2 separate regions of the Homo sapiens genome follow, and region 1 is linked to region 2. The links come from fine-mapping of genetic effects on gene expression. A gene starts in region 2. The other region holds a variant in brackets. All regions are shown on one strand. Distances are from middle to middle. Region 1 has its middle 29 kb from the start of KIF26B. Region 2 holds the start of DRC8 (dynein regulatory complex subunit 8).

What was found.
Region 1: its variant is fine-mapped to the expression of DRC8 in whole blood (TOPMed, PIP above 0.99).

The regions. Positions count from the first base shown.
Region 1 is chr1:245,124,947-245,127,853 of GRCh38, reverse strand. It overlaps a transcript of DRC8 not described here. Among named protein-coding and RNA genes, the nearest start is that of KIF26B, 29 kb to the left of the region's middle. The variant T/A (reference allele first, on the strand shown) is at 1,381.
Region 2 is chr1:244,968,322-244,971,228 of GRCh38, reverse strand. DRC8 (dynein regulatory complex subunit 8) reads right to left here and starts at 1,547. Exons shown (of 8, transcript NM_032328.4): 1 at 1,186-1,547; 2 at 786-900. The coding sequence starts at 810. LOC124900416 reads left to right here and starts at 659. Exons shown (of 4, transcript XM_054328428.1): 1 at 659-903; 2 at 905-974; 3 at 977-2,907. The coding sequence starts at 692. The coding sequence ends at 1,243. EFCAB2-AS1 (EFCAB2 antisense RNA 1) reads left to right here and starts at 360. Exons shown (of 2, transcript NR_111907.1): 1 at 360-417; 2 at 1,250-2,907. RefSeq lists enhancers at 1-254, 2,693-2,907 and silencers at 425-514, 525-884, 895-1,074, 1,345-1,484.

The DNA.
Region 1 (2,907 bases), 160 kb before region 2:
TTCTCTCTCTTAATCTTTCCCATTCTGTCCTTTGTGATCAGCATTTATTTCACAGCCATTTATTGAGCAGCTAGTATGTGGCAGGCACCGTGGGAGCCACACACAGGGCTCTTGCTTGCACGGGGGTCACAGCCTCACTTTCAAAAGGCCTGGGTGCGCCTTGGTCTTTGTTTTCCTCTCCATTTTCTTTTTCTTTTCTTTTTTTTTTTTTTTCCTAGATGGAGGTATGCTCTTGTTGCCCAGGCTGGAGTGCAGTGGAGTGATCTCGGCTCACTGCAACTTCTGCCTCCTGGGTTCAAGCGATTCTCCTGCCTCAGCCTTCTGAGTAGCTGGGATTACTGGCACCTGCCACCATGCCCAGCTAAATATTGTATTTTTAGTAGAGATGGGGTTTCAACATGTTGGCCAGGCTGGTCTCGAACTCTGGACCTCAGGTGATCTGCCCGCCTCGGCCTCCCAAAGTGCTGTGCTTACAGGCGTGAGCCACCGTGCCTAGCCTTCCTTCCATTTTCTTTCCCTGTCACTCTCATCCTACCTTAACCCTCAATGATTCTGTTCTTTAATAGGTCTAATTTCATAAATGAAACAGATGCTTTACTCATTATATTATTGTTGAAATCCATGTTCCTTTTTAAAAACACGAGTGAATACTGCTTCTTTAAAAAAACAAAAAACTTCCCTAGAGTAAGTTTCTTTTTACTGAAGGGTCTCATATTTATCTTTTTTTTTTTTCTAGAATCATTGACCCTTTCCAGAAATAAGCTCCTTGACAAGTTTGTTTTCACAAATGCAGGCAGATATAAATATGCCGTCATATTTGTGCAATTTACAAAGTTGTACAATCCTCAAAGTAGTTGATCCTCACTTTCATCTCTTCCTAAACAAAATTGCAATCCAGAAAATAAAAATATCCCTTAGAAAACCTCCACACCTGTCTGAAGAACTTGTGGTGATAATGATCTCCGTGGAGTTGGATGAGCCTCTGAGTCTGACAAGTGTCTTCTAATCTGAAGTTTTGCACCCCTGGTATTTGTGACTATGACCCGTAATCTTCTTTTCACAGTATTAAGTGTGTCGTAGAGCCAGAGTCTGGTTGGCTGAGGGCCTGTTTCTCAAATCTGCGTGGTCATGTCAGAGGCATTTGAATCAGAGTGATGAGGGGCTGAGTAAAATGAGGCTGAGATCTGCTGGGCTGCGTCCCCAGCCTGTTAGGCATTCTAAGTCACAGGATGAGACAGGAGGTCACCACAAGATACAGGTCATAAAGACCTTACTGATAAAACAGGTTGCAGTAGAGAAGTGGCCAAAACCCACCAAACCCAAAATGGTGATGAGAGTGGCCTCTGGTCGACCTCACTGCTCATTATATGCTAATTATAA[T/A]GCATTAGCATGCTAAGAGACACTCCCACCTGCGCCATGACAGTTTACAAATGCCAGGGCAATGTCAAGAAGTTATCCTACACGGTCTAAAAGGGGGAGGAACCCTCCGTTCCAGGAATTGCCCACCCCTTTCCCTCATGAATAATCCAGCCCTTGTTTAGCATATAATCAAGAAATAATCATAAAAATGGGCAACCGGCCCGGCGTGGTGACTCACGCCTGTAATCCCAGCACTTTGGGAGGCCGAGGCGGGTGGATCACGAGTCACGCCTGTCATCCCAGCACTTTGGGAGGCCGAGGCGGGTGGATCACGAGGTCAGGAGATCGAGACCATCCTGGCTAACATGTGAAACCTCATCTCTACTAAAAATACAAAAAATTAGCCGGGCATGGTGGCGGGCGCCTGTAGTCCCAGCTACTCGGGAGGCTGAGGCAGGAGAATGGCGTGAACCCGGGAGGCGGAGCTTGCAGTGAGCCGAGATTGTGCCACCGCACTCCAGCCTGGGCGACAGAGCCAGACTCCATCTCAAAGAAAAAAAAAAAAAAATGGGCAACCAGCAGCCCTCGGAGCTGCTCTGCCTATGGAGTAGCCATTCTTTACTCCTTTGTTTTCTTAACAAACTTGCTTTCACTTCACTCTATGGACTCCCCCTGAATTCTTTCTTGGGCGATATCCAAGAACCCTCTCTCGGCGTCTGGATCGAGACTTCTTTCTGATAACAGTCCTACTATCTGTGGAAGCCCTAGGGTCCTGAGGAACTTGTGAGGACAATCTGGCTTCCTGGGAAAACCCTCAGCCCCAGCCACTAACAGGGCAGGACATATGGGGAGGAAAGAGCCTTGATATCATCCCATATGTTGAAAAACAATTGCTATTCCAACTACAGTTGCTTCTGCCTTCTAAGGCAGGTGTCATGATTCATGTGATGTGAAGATCAAGTCCTTGCCTTCCCTTTGGCTTAAAAAGATTGCTGATGGAAAACTGAGAGAATTTGATTGAGTTGAGGCATAGGATAACCACCAAGTTTGTGCAGGTGCTTGCAGCCCTAAGGGGAGAGGTGCAGAATGGGTGGTCCCTTGCTAAGCAGAGGCTTTGGAAATGCCGCAGCAGGAGGTGGGAGAGTGGAATTGCTCTAGGAGGTGAGACAAGGAGCTGACATTGAGCCAGAGAGGGAGAGCCAAAACCTGGGGGAAGGCTGGGCTACAAAGAAAGGACAGAGCCAGGGAGAAATTTCCCACAGCAGTAATGGTGAAAAACACTTTTTTAAATGGGCGAATATCATGGATGCTCGTAGCAACATTTTCGTAATAGCCAAAAAGTGAAAACAGCACAAATGCTCATCAGCTGATGAAGGGATAAGCAAACATGGCATCTCCAAACAGTGGAACGAAGTGGTGTGATCCTGAGTGGGGTCTGTGAAGCACAGCAGGCTTGGCCAGCCACGGTAACCACGATGGGTCCATCGCTGGATGGGACCAGAAAGTGAATACGCCGAGGCATAGGGTTGTAGCAGAGAAAGAGGTTTC
Region 2 (2,907 bases):
GGGTGTGTGTCTTTTTTTTTTTTTAAGACAAGACACTAGGCCAATTGCGCGGCGCTAGCCGGCGGCGGGGCAGGCATTTCGGAGGACCGGGAAGCTCGGAGGCAGCGGCTGTGACCTCCAGACCGTCCTCCTGCGTCCTCATTAAGGAGGCAAAATGGTGGCCGCGAACGCCATCAGGCTGCGCCAGCGCGGGGTTTCGGCGCAAACAGAGGATCCCGTCAGATTCAGGCGGCCAGAACTCCTCCTCACCCAGGCCACCCCCCGGGGCCCACAGCCTGGACAGCTACGGGCGTGGCGCCTGCGGCACCGAGACCCCAGGCGAGAGTGTGGAGGCGGCGGCGGCTTCCCCGCGACCGTGAACAACGACGCCATTATCAGCACCCCCTGCCGGCGCCTCCGGCGCAGCCCGCGCAGGATGCAAGGCCCGGCCTCCGAGGGAGGGGGAAGGAGGACGGGGCGGGAGGAGGGGAAGAGGGTGAAGAGGGCGGGAGGAGAAAGAAGAAGGCGGGAGGAGGGGAGAGAGAAGAGGGAGGGAAGAGGGGAGAGAGGCGGGGCGGGGCGGGGGAGAGAGGCGGGGCGGGGCGGGGCGGAGCGGCGGGCCGGGCGGGCTACGGGGACGGGGGCAGGGCGACTGCTGCTGCCGGGTGGCCCCCTCCTCAGGCCGCCCTTTCCCTGCGGGTGGGAACTCCAGATGGACGAGGGCCCACCCCACCCGGCGCTTCCCCGTGCAGCCCGGGGTCGCGGCGGGCGGCGAGGGCAGCGGCTCCCCGGCTCCCCTACCTTACCTTCCCTGTCCTTCTCGTCCGCCATCTTGCTGCGGAGCCGGTCGCCTGGGAGATGCCTAACGATAACCTCGGCCGCGGTGTCCCGGCCTGCTCAGCGCCCCGCGGCGAGCCTGGCCTGGAGGAGGGGCCGCTCTGAATCCCGGGGGAGGAAGACCCTTGGGCGGGGCGGGGCGGGGAGGAGGCTCCGAGCGCGCGCCCTGTCCCCGTTTCGCGCCACGACCCTCGCGCTGGGGGAAGACCAGAGGCCCCGTCTGCCACCCGGCCCCCGGCCTTGTCCCTCCAGACCCGAGGCCGGAGCCGGACTTGTCCCGGGCCTAGCATGTTGCTTCATCACACGGTCCCCAACCCCTCCTTTCCCTTATTTCTCATCCATTTGGGGACAGCACGCGCGCGCACACACCCCTCGCCCCCTCCTGTCCTGTTTGTGCGACGTGGCGTTGCTCGATTTTTGTTGTTAACTGCAGATTTTGAAAAGCGCCGGAGAGCTAGGTGAAGAGCTGGGCTCCCAAGGGGGTGATAGAACCAGCCCGCGGCCCGGCCTCCTCCTCCCGCTTCCCATTCGCAGCCCGCCTCCCGCCGGGAAGCGGCCCGGCTGCTGCAGAACGGCCGCGCCTGCCCTCCCGGTTTCTCCCGTCCAGTCTTCACCGTCCTTTCCCAGAGAAAGCGACAGCACAGCCTATGACAACCGAAGCTAAAACGGAAAAACTGGGCCGGGCGCAAGAGGAAACCAGAGCCATTCGACTATTGCTAGAGGAGAGGAATAGCTGCAGGAAAACATGCGCAAAATAGCACAAACATTGCGTCGTCAAGGCTGCAATGTCTAATACAAAATAGAAGGTTCTCATAGCAACAAAAACGTGCCCATGTTGTGCTCAGTATTACATGCGTTAAAATGTTCTTAGTTGTGAAATTTGACATGACCGCTAGTTAAAGTTACAATGGAAGTTTTAAATCCCGCTTTCCGAAAACTTTGCAGCTATAGCATGAAGTTAAATTTTTGTCTTATTTTCTGGATAAGTTTACTATACTGGAACATAGTAAAGCTCTTTTTATAAAGAGCTTTGAATAAAATACCTAATGATGTGGTTGAAACGAACACCTATTTTCAAAACTAATCTTAAGTGGTATTTCAGTGCATATGTTATGTAAAAGCAATTTATAAACTAAATTTTAAGAGCCTTCAAAATACAAGGTACTCGTATTTAATGACTTAACAGTTTTAATGCTTTTATTGTTTCTATAATCTCTCAGGAAATCCTAAAACTGACTATATTTTTCTTTATTAAAATAACTTTTTCTGTAGAAGATACCCATTTGGCGCTGTGATCAGCATTCTACTTGAAATTGAATATAAACAACTGAATCATTACAAAATGGCTCATGTTAGAAGATACTTAAAACGAATACAATCTTGTACAGTAAATGTTTAACACCCCAAAATAACGAAAAGTAATTATTAGCATTCATTTATATCTAAATCTCAGTCAATATGATCTAAATATTTGTGTTTAAAGACTCCCCCTTTCCATATAGATAATGAAGGGCTTTGAAATAAGTGTAGGAAACCCTAAGTTTGGTCTCAGGCTTCCTATTCATTCACTATGCTTTTTCGTGTGCTGTTTACAGTTTCCTTTTTCTGGAATGCCTTTCCCTGCTTTTTTCCCCCGCCAACATTTCAGCTTCCCACAGACACACATTTGTGCCCTCCTGGTTGTCCTGCAGGATGACCTTTGTTTTTGTTTTTGTCTTTTGTTTTTCGAGACAGGGTCTCGCTCTGTCGTCCAGGATGGAGTGCAGTGGTGTGATCTCTGCTCACTGCAACTTCCGCCTCCCGGTCTCAAGTGACCCTCCCACCGCAACCTCCCAAGTAGCTGGGAGGAGCGGCGCGCGCCACCATGTCTGGCTAGTTTTTGTATTTTTTGTAGAGACAGAGTTTCCCCATGTTGCCCAGGCTGCTCTCAAACTCCTGAGCTCAAGCGATCTGCCGCCTGCCTGGCCCTCCCAAAGTTCTGGGATTACAGGTGTGAGCCACTGTGCCTGGCCAGGATGACCTTTTTGAAGTCACCTAGTCATTGAAGCTTTCCCTCTCAGCCTTTTCCTCTGTGGCCCCATGCTTATAGAG